Regions from separate parts of the Homo sapiens genome. Here region 2 is linked to region 1. Evidence: fine-mapped QTL for protein levels in blood plasma. A gene starts in region 1. The other region holds a variant in brackets. All regions are shown on one strand. Distances are from middle to middle.

Evidence for each region. A credible set is the group of variants that fine-mapping cannot tell apart. PIP is the chance, under the fine-mapping model, that this variant and not a neighbour inherited with it causes the effect. Protein levels are from the aptamer-based SomaScan assay of Sun 2018.
Region 2: its variant is the best candidate, but not a certain one, in a credible set for the plasma level of the SIGLEC7 protein (Sun 2018, PIP 0.58).

Annotation. Positions count from the first base shown.
Region 1 is chr19:51,137,352-51,147,415 of GRCh38, reverse strand. It overlaps SIGLEC7 (sialic acid binding Ig like lectin 7), which reads right to left and starts at 5,115. Exons shown (of 7, transcript NM_014385.4): 1 at 4,614-5,115; 2 at 2,732-3,010; 3 at 2,457-2,504; 4 at 1,295-1,561; 5 at 566-662; 6 at 99-195. The coding sequence starts at 5,046. It overlaps LOC124904749 (a long non-coding RNA gene), which reads left to right and starts at 6,906. Exons shown (of 3, transcript XR_007067310.1): 1 at 6,906-6,992; 2 at 8,590-8,631.
Region 2 is chr19:51,125,786-51,135,849 of GRCh38, reverse strand. SIGLEC9 (sialic acid binding Ig like lectin 9) reads right to left here. Exons shown (of 7, transcript NM_014441.3): 2 at 9,975-10,064; 3 at 9,722-9,769; 4 at 8,554-8,820; 5 at 7,811-7,901; 6 at 7,340-7,436; 7 at 5,540-5,959. The coding sequence ends at 5,771. Among named protein-coding and RNA genes, the nearest start is that of SIGLEC9, 5.9 kb to the right of the region's middle. RefSeq lists an enhancer at 6,874-6,923. The variant C/T (reference allele first, on the strand shown) is at 4,233.

The DNA of each region.
Region 1 (10,064 bases):
AGATAATTTTGGCCATGATAAGCAGAGAAATCCTGGAGGCCATCCTGTGGGAGATGTCCCAGCTGGATGCTGGGTGTGGAGACGCCCATATCACTCACCTGAGAGGCTGAGCCCCTGATGGTGTTTGCATCCTTCATGCCTATGTCTCCCACGTCCGCTGCTGGCCTTGCCGATTTCTTCCTGCAGGACCTCACTCTGAGTGAAGAGACCAGAGAGCCTTTCAGTGTGGTCAGATCGGGGTGCAGTGGGCAGACCAACCCCTGCCCTGTATTTCCTGTTGGGGCGCTGGAGGGGTAACTGAGGTGGGAGGAGGGTGGTCCAGTCCCAGAGACCCCAGTGTTGAAAACAGAGGCTCCTGCCTCCTGGGTGGTGGGGCCCAAGGTTCACCACAGATGTGGAGCCCCACAGACAAGGGCGCTCTTGAAATTCTTGCCACGCACCCGTGAGCTCATTCTTGCCCCAAGCTCTTGACCCATGCAGTCCCTTCCAGCTCTGGCTTCAGGGATCCTGCTCCCAGTCCGCCCTCCCCCAGGACTCTCCCTCCCTCCCTAGGGTCAGTGCTCACACAATGAAGATGACACAGAAGGAGAGGAAGACCAGGGCTGTGGCTCCAGCTCCCCCGACCGCCCCCAGCAACACTCCTGATACAGGCCTCATTTTGCCTGAGGATGGATTGGAATTGTTTTGGTGATCCAACTCCAAGAACTGGGTCTCTTCTCCTCCCACTTCCTATAAGGCCCCCAACTTGGGTACCCTAATCCCCCTTCCCAGAAACAAAGGGCAAGAATGGGAGGGAGGAGGAAGGGACAACTCCTGAGGTCACTGAGGCATGAGAGTGGTAAGCACAGCCTGCCTGTATTTGAAATTTTGATTTGTATTCACTGTCAAATTATTTTGCAATAATTTTTAGTTTTTAATAAAGATAATCACATCCAATATTATTTCACTTGCTTGCTGAGTTGTTTTATTTTTTGTTTTTTAGTCGTGTGCCCAGAAGTGAGTGCCTTGCTTGTGTCACCCTAGTCCAGGCACTGGAAAGCAAGGCACGTGTCTCCCCAAACACACCTGTCCAGGCCCCAGCTCCTCCCCTCCAAGACCCACTCCTCCCCTCTTCCTGCCTTACACACCTTTCCTGGCAGGAAGAGGACAGCAGTGCCCTGGGTTGCAGGGAAGTTCCAGGCCTCACAGCTGAGCACAGACCAGAGCTGAGCTCCCCCTTGAAGCTCAGGGGCAGTGGGTGGCCCATGAGGGTGGGGCAGGTGTGTTCTCCTCCTCCAGCCCCTCCCTTACCCACCTGTGTACTCCTGTTGCAGGGAGAGGTTCAGGGAAACGTGCTGGGAACCCAGAGAGTTCTGAGCTCGACAGGTGAATTCCCCTTCATCCCCCAGGTGCACTTGCAGCTCCAGTACCAGAGGGTTTGAGGGCTGTGAGGGGTACAGGGTCAGACTCCTCCAGGTCCAGCTCAGCCTGGCAGGGGGATTGCTGTCAACAGCACAGACCAAGCGCAGAGACTGGCCCTCTAGGACTGAAAGAGATGAGCTGTTCCCCAGAGCTGTGGATGCTGTAGAGAAAAAGTTGGAGGTTCAAAGAGACAAAGTGATTGAAACAGGGAGGAAGGATACAGAATGAGACTGGGGAATGGAACAGAGAGTGATGTAGGCTGGTGCAGGGACATACTTATGTTCACCGCTCACTGTTGGGAATGTAAACTTGCCCACCTTTATTTGAGGACAACTTCACCATATCTTTCAAAATCAGAAAGAACATATGACACTGGTAAAATGTGCTTTTAGGAATTTATCCTATACACTTAGATATTCCTTGTGGGAGTAGATACAACATTATTCATTGCAGTGTTCGTGCCGTAGGATAAAATTAGTGCCATGATCTTCCATTAGGAGATGCCACAAAATCAGAGACTATTCAGACAGTGGAATCACACACATCCCTAGAAGAGGGTGCAAACAGTCTCACTGCTGACATCAAACCACCTCTGAGATCTTCCAGGTGCACAAACCAAGGCTCAGGACAGCCTGGACAGACCCTGGTTGATTCTGGGGACACATTTTACTGTGAATTTAAAATTTTTGCCCACGTGATTATAGCATGTATCCAAAAGAACGTAGCTCAAAACTATTGGGTAAAATAAAAAGACGAGTTAGGTGGCATATTCAGGAGATGGAAGATAAGAGGCCCAAAGGCTGCTCCTGCTATATGTATTTCCCCCTGTCCTGGCTGCAGGGCTGAGGAGGGTGTGTGTGCAAGAGTCTGAGGGGAGTGGGGGGAAGAGGACAGGTGCTCAGGTGGCCACAGAGGCTAAGGATGGGGAGGAGGCCTGGGTTCAACTACAAGGGAGTCTCATATCACCAGGGTGAGTCCAGGATGAGGAGGGACCTGGCCCTGCCCTGAGCTGAAGGCCCTGCTCCCCCAGCCCCAGGGAGGGGGCTCCATCCTACCTGTGCCTTCTCCTTGGAAGACAGTCACAGTCAAGTTCTGAGGAGGGTCTGGGACAGAAAGACATGGAGACCTGCATCACTGTGAGGGCTGGGGACACTGGCCCTGTCTCCCCAGGAGCTGCATAAATGGGGAAGGCGGAGCCAGCGTCCTCCTGATCCCACAACCAGCCCAGATTCTGGGACCCAGCACCCAGTGTCGAGCCCTGACCCCATCCTCTGCCCTCAGGGACGTCCCCCCCTCATCAGGGACCAGGGCGTCCTGGCTCAGCACTCACAGGACACATTGAGTTGGATGGTCCTGTTCGTGGTCACGCCGGCCCCAGGCAAGGTCACCTGACAGGTGAGGCTGGTGCCGTGGTGCTGGGGCTGTGGGATGAGGGTGAGCACTGAGGAGCGGGTGGTGGAGGGGTGCAGGGGGGACACAGAGGTCCCCATCCAGGAGATCATAGGGGGCGTCCCCTGCTCACAGGCCCAGGGCACAGAGCAGGTCAGATTCTGGAAGCAGCCAGACTCCAGGGTACCGGGGATAAGGATGTTGGGCCTGTGGGTCAAGGCTGGTGAAGAGAGGGGGACTCAGGATCAGGACAGAGGATCCATGGTACAGCCCTGGGGGAAGCTCAGGCTCTGGTTCAGCTTCTGCCCTGAGCCCAACTCGCTTCACCCTCAGCCCTCTCCCAGGGCAGGGGCCCCATCCCAGGCTTTCGCTGCCACCCCCATGACCTTTCCCTGTGGTGTCTCCTGGAGCCTGTGCCTTATCTGTCACATTCACAGAGAGCTGCTTCGTTTTGTAATTCCATCTTATCTGTCCTCTCTCCACCTGGAAGTAGTAGTTCCTCAAATCCCCCTTCCTGGCATCTCTGATGCTCAGGGAGCAGTTGTTGGTCTTCAGGTCCCCAAGGAGGTGGAATCGGCCCCGTGTCTCCTGCACTTTTCCATTTGGGATGTTTGTGGCCACTGGATTATTCCATTGTATATTGATCCCTTTCTTAAACCAGCATCCATGGACAGGGCTAGAGTCAGTTCAGTTGTAATAGGGTTAAAGGACACTGCAGGGCACAGAGACGCACTAGCCCTCCTGCACCATCACCAACTCCAGCACCTCCAGCCTGTATCTTGACAGTGGGGCCTGGGACGCTGTGGGGAAATGAGGCTCAGCCCAGCCCCGACTGTCCCTCTCTTCATTTGCCCACAAGAGAGGCAGCAGCATCTCTGAGACAGAGGGTTCCTGGGCTCCTTGTGTGAGCAGAGAAGTGGGAGGGAGAGGAGGGGCAGGGCTGTGGGACCCACAGGGGGCTGGAGAGGGGCTGGAGAGGAGCTGGAGACCTCAACCCAGCACGAAAGAGAAACTACAAACCCACATGCTATAGGAACTGGTTCCCTCTGCACAGAGTGAAGGAAACCCTGAAGCTCAGAGACCCTAGAGACCCACCCAGGGAGGAGAAGAGACCGTGTCCCACCTCCTACCTCCGGGCTTCCCTGGAGCACCAGGGCCTGCACCAGACACGTAGGTCCTGCCCTCCCGGCCTCTGGACCATCGTGGAGGTCCCTCCTGTCTTTTGAGCATCTAAATGTGGATCTCCGAGGACCTCAGGGCATGAGAGATGGAGGGGCCGTGTGCTGAGTCTCCCTGTCCAGGCTCAGGTGCCTCTGCTGCCCTTGGTTTGCGCCAGGAAGTGCTTCCTCCCTGGCCTGGCCTGAGAGAGTCACGGGGTTGTGTAGACCTAAGGCTCTCAACTGGGGAGGACTTAACCCCCCAGGACGTTTAACAATGTGTGGAGATAATTGTTATTGTCTCACTGCATGGGTGGAGTGGGTGCTTCTGGCATCTGGTGGGGAGAGGCCTGGGATGGTGCTAAACCCCGGCCATGCCTAGGACAGGCCCCAAAACAAGGAGTCATAAGGCCCCACATGCCACAATGCCAGCGTCAGAGGCAGGATGAGGATGTCAGGCCTGTGGGTCAGGGCTGGTGAGGGGAGGGGCCTGCAGGATCAGGAGGGGCATCCAAGGTGCGGTCCTGGGGAAGCTCAGGCTCTGGTCCAGCTCCTCTCCTGAGTCCATCACCCCCGGCCCCCTCCCAGGACATGTGTCCCGTCTCAGCCGTGCCCTAAAGCCCTCATCACATTTGCCTTTGGCCTCTCTTGGAGCCCGTGCCTTACCTGTCACGTTCACAGAGAGCTGGTCATATTTATAATTCCATTTTATATTTCCTTTCTCCATACGAAAGAAGTATCTCCCCGCATCACTCATTCTGGCATCTCTGATGCTCAGGGTGCAATTTTTGGTCTGTGGGTCCCCAAGGAGGTGGAATCGGTCCCGAGTTTCCTCCTGCACTGCCCAAGCTGGGTTGTTTGTGGCCACTGGAGCCTTCCAGCTTATATCATTCCCTGCCCGGAACCAGTAGCCATGAACTGGGTCAGAGTCAGTCTGGCTGTCCACTGGGTAGGAGAAGGAGCAGCGCACATGGACACACATGCCCTCTTGCACGGTCACGGAACTCTGCATCGTCAGCGAGTAATCCTTCCGGTTACTCTTCTGTCCTTCCACCCTCTCCCTCCCCCAGAGCAGGGGCAGCAGCAGCAGCAGCAGCATATCTGGGGTTGGAGGTGCCAGGGCCGCGAGGGAACGTCTGTTCCTCAGGGTTCTTCTCTCAGGAACTGCGGGCTCAAGACTTAGAAGAGGCCCTACAGGAAGTCGGTGGTGAGGTCAAAACAGTGACCTCCTTAGAAGAAGAACTTCACACACAGACACTGTCAGGGCTGGGTCAGCCCTGGGAGATCCACCGTCCACCACCCGACATTCACTCCTGGGTCCCTGAGGCCAGAGCGGGAGACAGACTCACCCAGATTCCCACCCCATGCAGGGCCCACCCCACCTCCTGCCTCCCTCTCAATGCCTTTCCCTTTAGGTGATATTTTCTGCAGGGTGAAAATAACTCCCATCTGCCCAGACCCCTGAGTCACAGGCTGTGGATGTCTGCGTAGCTCAGAAGTGGGACTCGGGGCCATGAGAGACAGGGGTGCAGGTGGGGTGAACAGGCAGCCTCTCATCCCTCCCTCAGCAGCCACGAGGTGGGCACCCCCTTTCTGCACAATGAGGTCAACACAGCAGAGCCGGACACTGTCCCCAAGGAGTCACTGTGTGGTGGGGAGACACTGAGTCTCCTGACGTTTGAGCTCCCCATGACAGGAGCTTCAGTGGGGGGCACAGGCAGGGTGGGGTCACTCTCCCCTAGGTCGGGGGTTCAGTCTCAGGAGGACCGAGCAGACGGACATGGGGCTGTGAAGGTGAGGATTGCGCCTGTTGATACACGCCAAGGACACGGAGGGGAGCCCAGCCTGCAGGAGGCCGGGGAAGCTGAGGCTGTGATTGTTGTATTGTGGGGCTTGGTAGACAGGAAAGTCATAAGGGAAAGGATCAATATGAAAAGAGCAGACACTATTCCCATCCTCACAGCTCTCTGAGCACAAGGACATTTCCCTTCACCACTGCTATCTCATGAGGCCTGGTTAGTGCAGAGTGTGAGGGGTCTGCTGGCCCTGGGGCTTTGCTCCTGCAGGAACTGCTCCTAGGGGTTCAGGTGAACAGGAGACGTGGAGCAAAGACACCAGCCCCGGGGCGTCCACCCTCAGTGATGGGCGCGATTTTCTGAGAGAAGAAACACGCACCTGACTTCAACAGAAGATTATTTTAAACTGTGTGACTGGGCTGGGAGGAAGTGGGAAAAATCCTGCAAGCTGCAGCCCCCTTAGATCCAGGCCAGCTTTTCTTGAAACAGTTTTTTTTGAGCGGGGAGAAACACAAGACATGTACATAAAAGTGTCCCCTAAAAACCAACTCAGTGATTCACACAAAATAAGCACCCTTGAAGAACTAGAACACAAAAGAACTGTCAAGTCTGTCCCTTGAAATGAAGAAAGAGATTTTATTAATTCATTCACCCTTACATTCCCCTTTCCTATTGGCCATGCCCCCGCTCCCTCCTGAAGGAGCCCCTAGCCTCACTTTAATGATAATAGTCTTCCTGCTGTTCTATGTAGTTTTATCATCGGCACATGCTGCCTTGAAAATTCTAACTTCACGTAGGTTTTCCTGAAGATGTTGTATACATAGAAAATCCCAGTCTGTTTTCTTCCATACAACTGCATTGATCTGCTCAGCCCACACTGTCCCCTAATTGTCCATAACCTAGAGATCATTTGGCTGTAACGATTGAGAGAGGAAGATGCTGGGTTTGGGCGTCCGAAGCCACTCCCCGCCCTCACCTCCAATCCCTGCATTTGCAGCTAGTATCTCATCCTGCAGACCAATCTGCCTCCTGGGCGCCTCCTCCTTGCCCAGCCACTCTCTCCCCATAAGGATATTTGCAGTATCTCAGTGGGCAGAAGTGTTACCGGATGGTGCCATGCAGTTCCAGGCTCTTGGTGTCTTAAACAAAGAATTGGATGAGACACACACAGACAGCAAAGCAAGAAGCAGCAGTTTATTAAGCACAGTATCACACTCTTGGAGAGGGAGAGCGAACTGATCTCTATGAGGTGAGATCAGCATTACTTTGGGTCTTTTTATGTTTGTTTGTTTGTTTTTTTGTTTTTCTTCGCTTCCCAAGGCTGCCAAATCTCTATCCAGTGTCTGCCTTTTTTCGGGGGGAAGGGGTGGTGGTGAGGTGGGGACGAAGTCACCCAAGCTTGAGTGCAGTGGCACAATCTTGGCTCACTGCAACCTCAACCTTTTGGGTTGAAGCGATTCTTCTGCCTCTGCCTCCCTGGTAGCTGGGACTACAGGCGCCCGCCACCATGCCTGGCTAATTTTTGTATTTTTAGTAGAGATGGGGTTTCACCAGGTTGGCCAGGCTGGTCCTGAATTCCTGACCTCAAGTGATCCGCCCACCTTGGCCTCCCAAAGTGCTGGGATTACAGGCGTGAGCCACCGCGCCTGGCCAGTGCCTGCCTTTTTGATGGTTAAGTATGTTGCTTAGTTACTTTGACCCATCCCATAATTTTAAGTACATGGATAATATGCAGTCCATATGCATGAACTTTAATGAGCTGATTATCATACAGGGTCATGTTAAGGATACTTTTTCTCTCTAATGCACATGCATAGCTCTGAAGAACTGCCCCTTACTGGTTTGGTCCAGATCCTGCTGGCCACGGGTGTCCTTGCTCACTTCTCTATCTTACTTTTTGTTTTGGCTGCTCAACTTCTGCCTCTTGCTTCTTGCTCACCCGTCCCCTCACCTTGCTTCTGCTCTCTGCTTTTACTTATTCTGCCCTTTATCCAACTTTTAATTCTCTTTGCTATGCTCCTGCCCCATTGGTCTATGCTCCTCCTGCCTCAGAAGGGCTAGACCATGGCCCATCTCTTTCCCACAGTCCCCAGTTTGCAATTAAAATCAGAAAAAAAAATGGGAAGGAGAGACTTAAGGAAGCCACAGAATCTGTAGAAAGGAGGAACTTGTGAACCACATATGACCCAGGGGAGCTGACAAGCCCTCTACTCCCACTTCCACAGTTCGGAGAGGAAGACATCAAGGTCCACAGTGACAAGTGCTATGGTCTGAATATGTCACCTCAAAATTCATTTGTTGAAATTTGAATCCCCATGTGATAGTATTAGAAGGTATAATGATTTGGGAGGCGATTAGGCTATGAGGACTCTGGGATTAGTCTAATGGGATTAGTCCCCTCATCTGAGAGACCCAGGGGAATTTGCACAGCCCTTCCACCACATGAGAACATAAGGAAAAGGCACCATCTATGAGGAAGCAAACTGTCTCCAGACACCAAACCTGCTGGCACCTTGGTCTTGGACTTCTCAGCCTCCAGAACTGTGAGAAATGAATTTCTGTTGTTTATAAACTGGCCAGTTTATGGTATTTTGTTGTAGCAGCATGAATGGACAGAGATAGAAAGCGAATTGCCCAAATCACACAGGTCTCCTGGGCCCTGTCTCCTGCACCAATGTCTGCCCAGGAGCCACTTAATTAATCTTGTCTGCCCAGGACAGACTGGGCTGGGACAGGGGAAGCTGATGTTACTTGGAGAGTGAAAGAACTGTCAAGTCTCTCACATGAGATAAGGAAAGACATTTCATTCATTCATTCATTCATTCATTCATTCGTTCTGTATTCAGATTGTGAGCACCCGTGCTGTGCCTTGAGATTTCCAGCAAAGGGTAAGTGTTTGCCCAATCGCTCCCTCCCAGGAGGGGAAGTTGCAGCATCTCAGTGGTCAGAAGGGCTGAGCCATGGCTGACAGTGATGTCCTGCATCTGTCCCGCAGGGCTGGGTGTCCTCATCTGAGTTCTGTCTTGAGCAGGAGGGGCTCAGTCAGGCCTCTCAGCCCTGCTCCCCTGGGGGCCTCCACACCTGTAGAGCCAACACCGGCCTCAGATTAGCATCGGCCACTTCAATTCTAACTCAGGCGGGACAGGACAGCTCAGCCCCATCTGGAACTCGGGGGCCAATCCCTCGGCTTCCCTAGAAAAGAGCAGCCCTGCTCACCTGGAGTAGTAGCCCCAGGTGAGGCCACGGGTGAAGGAAAAACCAGTGCCCATGAGCGCCCCTTGATTAGGTGAGAACCAGGGGCTGGGAGCCCTCCTGATCTTCACTCGCACATCTGCACCCAGAGGGACTTCCTGGGAGTGGGGAGAAGAGGGTGAGGTTTTGTTCCTAGGTCTAGGCCCCTCTCACAGCCCAACACCTGACCAGGCTGCCTGCCCCAGCACCCGTCCAGCAGCTCCCTCTGCACAGAGAGGCTCAGGGAAATGTGCTGGGAGCCCAGTGGGTGCTGAGCCTCACAGGTGAGGTCGCCTTCACCTCCAGTCCCTTTCTGGGGCAGCTCCAGGATCCCAGTTGCTGAGAGCTGGGAGAGATTCAGTGTTCTTCCCTCCTGAGACCAGCTCAGTGAGGCGGGGGAGTTGCTGTCAGTCACACAGACCAGGCCCAGGGACTGACCCTCCAGGACAGGAAGCGAGGTGCCATTGCTCAGGGTCTTCAGGGTTGAGTGAGGAAAACAGTGAGAGCGGGGAGGGTGGAGCTGAGAGGCTGTCTCTCCCACAACCCCACAAAAACAGAAAGAGGAGACACCTGACTGTGTGACACATACTCACGAATGCAAATCCAGGAGTTCAAAAAGCTGAAAGACCCCGCAGGGAAAGAGGCTGAGCTGAGACTAGTGGGGGAGTTGGTCATATTAACAGGTGGCTAAGGGCACCTCAGGTGGAGGGGAAAAAGCACAGGCCATGAGACAGCCGGGCAGATGAAGGGCCCTGCAAATATGTGTGGGGTCTTCCAGGGGGAAATTGGAGGTGCTGGGACATGATCAGCTGAACAGCTTGGACTGAGGGTTCCAGGGAACCAGAGAGGGCCCTGAGCAGGGAAGAGGCAGTGTCAGCTCTGGATGCAGGAAAATTTTTCAGGGCTTGTGCTGCGAGGGCCACAGCATGGAGGCGAGAGGCTGCAGACCGGGATGTTGGGTGGGAAATGGAGCAATCGTCAAGACCGAAAAGGGCCTGGCCATGCAGATAGAGGGGAGGAGACAGGGAATGGAGGGAGGAGGAAGGGCATGATGGCAGACATTTTTGGGGAAGTGAAGTTTACAGGAACC
Region 2 (10,064 bases), 12 kb after region 1:
TGAGAAAAGAATCTCAGAGCTCAAAGACCAGTTCTCTGAATCAACCCAATCAGACAAAAATTTTTAAAAAAAGAATTAAAAAAAATGACAAAACCCTCCAACAAATATGGGATTATATAAAGAGACCAAACCTACGGCCCACTGGAATCCTGGAAAAAGAGAGACGCAGCAACTTATAAAACATATTTGAGGATATCATCCACAAAAATTTCCCCAACCTTGCTAGAGAGGTTGACATATAAATTCAGGAAATTCAGAGAACCCCAGGAAGATACTGTACAAGATTACCATCCCCCAGACACAGAGTCATTAGATTTTCTAAGGTTCACATGAAAGAAAAAATATTCAATGCAGCTAAAAGGAAGAGGCAGGTCATGTACAAAGGGAACCCCATCAGGCTAACAGAAGAGCTTTTAGCAGAAATCATATAAGCCAAAGACATTCGGGGCCTATATTCAGCATTCTTAAAGAAAACAAATTTCAGCCAAGATTTTCATACCCTGCCAAACTAAGCTTCATAAACGAAGGATAAATAAAATCCCTTTCAGACAAACAAAAACTGAAAAAAATTCATTACCACCGGACCTGACTTATAAGAGGTCCTTAAGTGAGTGCCAAACACAGAAGTGAAAGAATGTTACATGACACCACAGAAAGTGGTGTTAAGTGGTTAAGTGTATAACCCACTGACATTATGAAGCAACTATACAATCACGTCTACATAACAACCAGCTAACAACATAATGACAGGATCAAATTCTCACATCTCAATATTGACATATCAATAATGCTTTCGCTGGCTGTCCCTTTTGCATAGAGTCCAGCATGAGACGCAGAGGAGACTGGGATGCTTAATGTAGCCAGATGGGGCTGATGTAGCTCCTGAGTTAAAAATACATCTTTCTTTGGGACAGAAGGAACCACGTAATTTACTCTAGTCCAGTTTGGTCCTAGCATCCAGGAAAGTAAAGATGCAATGTACCAGAATACCCATATCAAAAAGTTAGAAAGATCCCAAATTAGCAACTTAACATTACACCTAGAGGAATTAGAAAAACAAGAGCAAGTCAACCCCAAAGCTAGCAGAATAAAACAAATAACCAAAATCAGAGCTGAAATGAATAAAATTGAGATACGAAAATTCCTACAAAAGATCAGTATACCCCAAAGTTGGTTCTTTGAAAGAACAAATAAGATTGATAGATCACTAGCTAGTCTAATAAAAAAGAGGGAACCAAAAGCTTTCATCATTTAAGAGTTTTTAATTTCTCTTTCATGAAAGGTAAATTTACATACAGTAAAATACATAGATTTTATTTGCGTGATTCAATGTGTTTTGATTCATAACCACATAATTACTATCCCAGTTAAGACATAGACTATTCCTAGGACTGGCTGGGCGCAGTGGCTCACGCCTGTAATCCCAGCACTTTGGGATGCAGAGGTGGTTGGATCACAGGGTCAAGAGATCAAGACCATCCTGGCCAACATGGTGGTCTTGGCCAACATGGTGGTCATCTCTATTAAAAATACAAAAATTAGCTGGGCATGGTGGCCCGTGCCTGTAATCCCAGCTACTCAGGAGGCTGAGGCAGGAGAATCGCTTGAACCCTGGAGGCGGAGGTTGCAGTGAGCCACTGCACTCCAGCCCGGCAACAGAGCTAGACTCCTTCTCAAAAAAAAAAAAAAAAAAAAAAAAAAAGAAAAGAAAGAAATAAAATTCCCAGGACCCCAGAAAGTTCCCCTGTGTGCCATTCACGTTAATCCCCAAATCCCACTCCCAACCTGAGGCAGTCACTGTTATGAATTTCTGTCTTTGTAGATTAGTTTGGCCTGTTCTTGAACTTCATATAAGTGAAACTACAGAGCATGTATTCTTTTGCATCTGGCTTCTTTGACTCAAGATGTTTTCAAAATTTATTCAAGCTATTGCATGTATTATATATTGTTATTATATATTGATGAGTATTATGCCGTTACATGGAAACATGTAATCAATTTTAAATATTAATTACTTAGATTTTTATATTATTTTCTCACTAAATGTAGGACATTTCAAGTGCTCAGTAGCCACATGTGGCTAGTGGTTACCATATCAAACAGCACAGTTGTACAAACATTATAGTCTCCGCTTTTACTTTTAGGTTTATGATTCGCTTCAGGCTAATTTTTTGCGTGTGATGTGAGAAACAGCTCAACACTCGTTTTTACCAACCCTAATTTCACTTGTTCCGCTAACATTTATTTTTTATTTATTTATTTATTTTCAAGATGGGGTCTCACTCTGTCGCCAGGCTGGAGTACAGTGGCACAATCTTGGCTCACTGCAACCTCTGCCTCCTGGGTTCAAGCAATTCTGCTTCAGCCTCCCTAGTACCTGGGATTACAGTTGCCTGCCACCACACCCAGCTAATTTTTTTTTTTTTTTTTTGTATTTTTGGTAGAGATGGTGTTTCACCATGTTATCCAGGCTGGTCTTGAACTCCTGACCTCAAGTGATCCACCCACCTCAGCCTCCCAAAGTGCTGGGATTACAGGTGTGAGCCACCGCGCCCGACCACCTACCAACATTTATTAAAAGTCTTTCCTGTCCCAATTGAATAGACTTGATGCTATTCAGTTGACTGTATATGTGTGGGTCCATTTGTAGACTGTACTCTAGTCCACACCACACTCTCTGTATTACTCTAGTGTTAAAGTCTGCCTTCTCTAAATGTGTTTCTTATCACAATGATTTGGTTATTCTAGGTTTTTATGTGTTTATATAAATTTCAGAACCAACTTATCAATTTATAACTATATATGTATATATATAAACTTATATTTACAATATACATACATATACACTCATCTATACTTATGTACATACATATACACATATACATATATTTTATATATATATAGGAATTTTGACAGGGATTACCTAAATCAATATGCAGACAACTGACATTTTAACCATTTTTGCCTTCTAATCCATGAACGTGATATATTTCTTCCTTCATTTGGGCCTTCCTTAAGTCTCTCAAAAATGTTCTATATTCATCAGTACAGAAGCATTCCGTGTTATCTTAGTTCATTTGTGTTGCTATAGAGTAATATCTGAGGCTGGGTAATTTATAAAGAAAAGAGGTTTATACAGCTTGTAGCTGCAGTGAACGCCAAGAATGAAGCACTCAGACAATTCCAGCTGAGCGGGATGCGGCGGCAGCAGCATCTCTGAAAGAGTGCCGCCCCAGAATCCGTCCGCCAAGTGTTTCTCGAAAGGGTTTGTTAAACCAAAATGTCCACCAGATGGCCTTTTGCGGTCGGGTCATGAGACACATATGGCCTGGTAAAAACACTCAGACTACAGTCTCAGGAGGCTGCTTTCCGCGCTCCTTATCACACATTCCGTTCCTTGCCCTGTTTTCAGGGTCAAGGAGTTTCAATCTCATGCACAAACAACACGCACACGGTGCCTCAGTATTTTTCCATGCCTCGACCTCAAATGCCTTGTACATAAGCTTGAATATGTTGCCGTGCACCCCCCACAGTTTATTTGGCTCACAGTTCTGCACCACATAGAAAATGCTTGGCACCAGCCTTTGCTTCTGGTGAGGGTCTCAGGAAGCTTCCACTCATGGTGGAAGGCAAAAGGAAGTCTGCATGTGCAGACAATACGGCAAGAGAGGAAGCACGGGCTGGGGAGGGGAGGTGCCAATGTCTTTTTAACACCCAGCTCTTGGAGAAACTCTCACAGGAAGTAACAGAGTGAGAACTCTCTCATTACCTTGAAGACAGCACCAAGCCATTCATGAGGGATCCAATCCCGGGACCTGAACACCTCCCATTTGGCCCCACCGCCAACACTGGGCATCAAATATCAACAGGAGGCTTGGCAGGGCCAAACAAACCATATCCAAACCATAGCATAGGATTTTTTTTTTTTTTTTTTGACACAGACTCTTGCTCTGTCGCCCAGGCTAGAGTGCAATGGCACAATCTCAGCTCACTGCAACCTCCGCCTCCCGGGTTCAAGCAATTCTCCTGCCTCAGCCTCCCAAGTAGCAAGGACTACAGGCATACGCCACCTCGCCTGGCTAATTTTTGTATTTTTAGTAGACATGGGGTTTCACCATGTTGGCCAGGCTGGTCTTGAACCCCTGACCTGAAGTGATTTGCCCTCCTCAGCCTCCCAAAGTGTTGGGATGACAGGCGTGAGCCACCACGCCCAGCTCGGATATGATTTTTTA[C/T]TTATTTATTTATTTATTTATTTATTTTTTTTGAGACGGAGTCTCGCTCTGTCTCCCAGGCTGGAGTGCAGTGGCACGATCTCAGCTCACTGCAAGCTCCACCACCCGGGTTCACGCCATTCTCCTGCCTCAGCCTCCCGAGTAGCTGGGACTACAGGCACCCGCCACCACGCCCGGCTAATTTTTGTATTTTTAGTAGAGACAGGGTTTCACCATGTTAGCCAGGATGGTCTCGATCTCCTGACCTCGTGATCTGCCCACCTCGGCCTCCCAAAGTGCTGGAATTACAGGCGTGAGACACTGTGCCCGGCCATGATTTTTAAAAAATTGTTCCTTGGTACTTTACGGTTTTTTGATGCTGCCGTAAATGGGCAAGAGTCTAGATTTAGGGAAGTTTTAGTGCTTCCTCCAGTCCTTTGATTTCTTCCTATCAGGGCTACTGCATAAAGTGATTGTTGTGAGATGTCCCTTTCCTCGTTCGGGTGCTGCATGTAGGTAAATTTTTTTGGATCATGTTGTTTAATTTGCCAGATGATCCTGTGCCCCTTTGGAAACGTTTCTCATTCCCTGGGTTTGGCTTTAGAGGAGGGAGATCATGAGCTGCTGCTTCACTCTCTCCCTCAGCTCAACCCAGAAGTCCAATCCTTGAACTCCATTTTCAAAGACAGAGACAGAAGAAGGCCCAGGAGGAGGGCGTTCTAGGAGGAGGGTCCCCAGTGTGCAAGGACTGAGGTATGAACCAACAGGGCATGTTGCAAATGATTTGGAAAAGACCAGAGGGACCAGTGGGTTAAGTGGTGAAGATGGAGGAGTGGACTGAAGTGGGAGAGTGATGTCACGAAGAGGATGTGATGGGAGGTTCAGGATCCAGGAGCCATGGATGGGCTGTGAGCAGTGCGGAGAGAGCTCAGTGTGTCCTAAAGATTCCCACTGGACTGTGCACAATACGTAGACTGCAGAGAGTAAGGCGGCCTAGCAGTCACAGGGTGGGCAGATGAGGCTGAAGAGGTGGGCAGGATCCAGATGCTACCTAGACCTGATTTGCAGGCTGAGGTTATTTCCTGGAAAGTTGCAGAATCGCTATTTTGCAGGCAAGTGACACAGACATATAAGTACTAGTTGCCACCAGAATCAGGAGAGGTTCCCAGCAGGACCTTTGTGTTCAAAGCACAGCGATCCATCAGTGCTCGGCATACACCTGTGCCAGGAGCTCTAACGGGATGTGACTCCTGGAATGGTGACCACAACCTTGCAAGTAGGGCTTCTCATTCCTGTTTTACAGAGCAGGAAACCAAGGTACAGAGAGGTAGGAATTTGTCTGTCTTTTAGTTAAAAAAATAAAAGGGAGGGCACAGTGTGGATTCAGGTTTGAGATACTTTGACTCTAAAGCCTGTGTGCTTTTCACTCTGCACATAATTCATAGTGTTATCATAGCTCATCACGTTGAGGGCTGTTAATTCTACAAGAATCAGCCTCTGACTTCTCCCTTGCCTGGAGGGGCTGTGATCCCTCAATCAGGGTGAGTCTCTGCAGTTTCTCATCTGTGGATCTTGATCTCCGAGTACTCGGTGTCAGTGGCCTCCTGTCCCCGCGAGTCCCAAGGCTTCACCATCTGGAAGCTGAGGGATGCATACTGGAGCTCTCCTTCCCCCACTGAGGAGCGGGCAGAAGCTGGGGGAGGCTGGTCTGGGGGACTGTCTTCTGCCCAAGGTTCAGTCAGGGGCCCCTGAGACATGGGAGAGAGAAGTGAGTCAGAGCAGACAGTGAGGATGGGGCGCGGTGGCTCACATCTGTAATCCCAGCTCTTCAGGAGGCTGAGGTAGGCGGATCACCTGAGGTCAGGAGTTTGAGACCAGCCTGGCCAACATGGTGAAACCCTGTCTCTACTAAAAATACAAAATTAGCCAGGTGTGGTGGTGTGCACCTTTAATCCCAGCTACTCAGGAGGCTGAGGCAGGAGAATCGCTTGAACCTAGGAGGCAGAGGTTGCAGTAAGCCAAGATTGTGCCACTGCACTACATCCTGGGTGACAGAGCGAGACTCCATCTCAAAAAACAAAAACAAACAAACGAAAAAATGCACTTGAGGCAACAGCCTCACTCACTTCACCCTTGTTCTTGCCCTAGTGGAGAGGTAGGTGCTTAAAAGGTCAGAATGTGGCCGGTCACAGTGGCTCACGCCTGTAATCCCAGCACTTCGGGAAGCCAAGGTGGGCAGATCACAAGGTCAGGAGACTGAGACCATCCTGGCTAACACAGTGAAACCCCGTCTCTACTAAAAATACAAAAAAATTAGCTGGGCGTGGTGGCAGGCGCCTGTAGTCCCAGCTACTCCGGAGGCTGAGGCAGGAGAATGGCTTGAACCCGGAAGGTGGAAGTTGCAGTGAGCAGAGATCGCACCACTGCACTCCAGCCTGGGCGACAGAGCAAGACTCTGTCTCAAAAACAACAACAACAAAAAAAAAAAAAAACAAAAAAAGTCAGAATGTGCACTGCTGCAGGCTATAGAGTTTGGGATTTTTACTCTAGATCAGGGGTTGTCAAACTACAGTATCTGAGTCATATCCAGCCCACTCTTTATGTTTGTGAATAGTTTTATTGGCACACAGCCATATTCATTTGTTTACACAGGGTATATGGCTTCTTTCTTGCTACAACAGCAGATTTGAGGAGCTGCAATGAGACTGTGTGGCCCATGAAGCCGAAAATAGTTTCTATCTGTCCCTGACAGATAGTATTTGCTGGCTTCTGCTCTAAACGGTATTGAGGGGTGGGGGAACAGCTGTTCAAATGCAGAGGAACTGGACGATGATGTCTTCTGGACAGTCCCCCCAGGCAGGAAAGGAGAGGAGACAGGCAGACAGGTGAGGGAACAAAAGACAGAGATCCTCAGGCCTCAGCAATGAAGGGTCAGGATAGGGAGCAGAGACAATAAAAGCTGTTCTTAGGGGAGGAAACCAACCAAACATTGTGATTTGGGGCTACAGAGAAGAAAGGAAGAACAGAGAGGAGGTAACTTTGGCTACGCCCAGCTGATTAGTCCTGGGGGTCATCCTGTGGGAGGTGTCCAGGCTACATGCTGGCTGTGGAGAGTCCACATCACTCACCTGAGAGGCTGAACCCCTGACAGCGTTTGCATCCTCTATGCCCGTATCTCCCACGCCCGCTGCTGGCCTTGCCGATTTCTTCCTGCAGGACCTCACTCTGAGTGAAGAGACCAGAGAGCCTTTCAGTGTGGTCAGATTGGGGTGCGGTGGGCAGACCAGGTACCCCCATGTGTTTCCTATTAAGGGACTGCAGGGGTGACTGAGGTGGGAAAGCAGTGGTCCAGTCTTAGAGACCCCAAGGTTGAGAACAGAGGCTCTCTTCTCCTGGACAGTGGGTACCAAGGTTTGCCACAGACTCAAAGCTCCTCAAACACAGGCCCACATGGAATTCTCACCATGCACCTGTGACCTCCTTCTTGCCCCAAGCTCTTGACCCATCCAGGTCCCTCCAGCTCTGGCTTCAGGGATCCAGCTTCCAGCCTGTCCTCCCCCAGGGCTCTCCCTCCCTCCCTCTCTAGGGTCCATGCTTACACAACGAAGATGACGCAGAAGGACAGGAAGACCAGGGCTGTGGCTCCAGCTCCCCCGACCACCCCCTGAGTCACTCCTGATGTGGCTTTGCCTGTTGACAGATGGGAGTTATTTTTGTGATATATCATAGAGAATTGGGTCTCTTCTCCTCCCACTTCCTGTAGGGTCCTAGACTTCTATTTCCACTTCCCCTTTCCAGACACAAAGAACAGGAATGAGAGAGAGCAGGACATGGAGAGACTCTTCCTGAGGCCAGTGAGGCGTGCAAGTGCCAGCCATTCCTTTTGGGGTTTTTTTTCACAATTTTAATATTTTATCCATTAATGAATTTGTTTTGCATTCAATTTTTACTTTTTTTAAAAGATTATTGCATTGCAATATGATTTCATTTGATTGCTGACTTGCTGGGCTTTTTCTTTTTTTTAATTTGATGCTCAAAGCAAGTATCTCAGTTGTGTGACTCCAGTTCAGCCCTGCAAAGAAAGGCGCTTGTCTCCCTAAACACACCTGTCCGGCCCCATCCTGTCCCCTCTGAGATCCACTCCTGCCCTCTCCCCACCCCACAACCCTTCCCTGGCAGGAAGAGGACAGTGGTGCTGTGGGTCCCAGGGAAGTTCCAGACCTCACAGCTGAGCACAGACCAGAGCGGAGCTCCTCTCTGAAGGTCCACGCTCAGCAGTTACTAAGGGTGGAGGAGGTGTGTTCTCCTCTCCAGCCCCTCCCCAGCATACTGGTGCACTCACTCTGCAGGGAGACGTTCAGGTAGACCTGCTGAGAGCCGAGAGGGTTCTGAGCTCTGCAGGTGAATTCAGCTGCATCCCTCAGGTGCACCCAAGGCAGCTCCAGCACCCCCGGGTTTGAGGGCTGTGAGGGGCACAGGGTCAGGCCTCTCCAGCTCAGGCTCAGCCTGGCAGGGGGATTGCTGTCAACTGCATCAACTGCACAGACCAGGCGCAGAGACTGGCCCTCTGGGAGTGACAGAGATGAGCCATTTCCCAAGACTGTGGATACTGTAGAAAAAGAGACAGAGGGTCAGAGAGATACATAGATCTGGAGAAAAAGGAAGGATACAGAAAGAGACTGATGACAGCAACTGACACACAGACATAGACTGAAGTTCTGGAAACACACACTTTCACCACTCACTGCTGGGAATGTAAACTTCTCCCCGCTTCATCGAGAACAGTTTGGGCTTATCTTTCAAAATAAGAAAGAACATATAATGTAGCTACATTTTGCTTTTAGGAACTTAACCCACAGGCTTAGATATTCCTGTGGAAGTAGATACAAGATTGTTCTATCCTGCCGTAGGATGAAATTAGTGCCGTGATCTTCCATTAGGAGATGCCACAAAATCAGAGTCCATCCATGCAGTGGACTCACACACAGCCCTAGAGGAGGGTGCGGACAGTCTCACTACGGACGTCAAACCACCTCTGAGATCCTCCAGGTGTACAAACCGAGACTCAGGGCAGCCTGGATGGACAGTGGTTGGTTCTGGGGAGGGGGGCAGGCATCGGAGGAGAGCCTTTGCTCTGCAATTTGAATTTTTGCCCATGGACATTTATCACCTGTCCAGAAGTACTTAGATCAGAACTATCAGAAATAAACAGATAAGGGTGGAGATGTATTCAGGAGATACATGAGAAGGAGCCTCAAAGCCTGGTCCTGCTGTGTGAATGCCACCCTCTTCTTGTTTGAGGCTGAGGGGGGGGTGTGTGGGGGAGTCCAAGGGAGGTGATGGGAGGATGGGAACAAGTGGCCTTGGGGCCTAAGGATACAGAGGGGCCCTGAGTTCACCCACAAGGACATCCCTGTTTGCCAAAGTGAGTCCAGGTTGAGGAATAAGCCAGCCCCATCCTGACCTGAAGGCCCTGCTCCTCCAGCCCCAGGGAGGGAGCTCCATCCTACCTGTGCCGTCTCCTTGGAAGACAGTCATGGTCAAGTTCTGAGGCGGGTCTGGGACAGAAAGACATGGAGACCCGCATCACTGTGAGGGCTGGGGACACTGGCCCTGTCTGTCCCCAGGAGCCGCATAAACAGGGAAGGCAGAGCCAGTGTCCTCCTGACCCCACCACCAGCCCAGATTCCGGGACCCAGCACCCAGTGTCCAGGCTTGACGCTCACCCCATCAGGGACCCAGGCGTCCCGGCCCAGCACTCACAGGACACGTTGAGATGGACGGTCTTGTTCGTGGTCACGCTGGCCCCAGGGAAGGTCACCTGACAGGTGAGGCTGGTGCCATGGTCCTGGG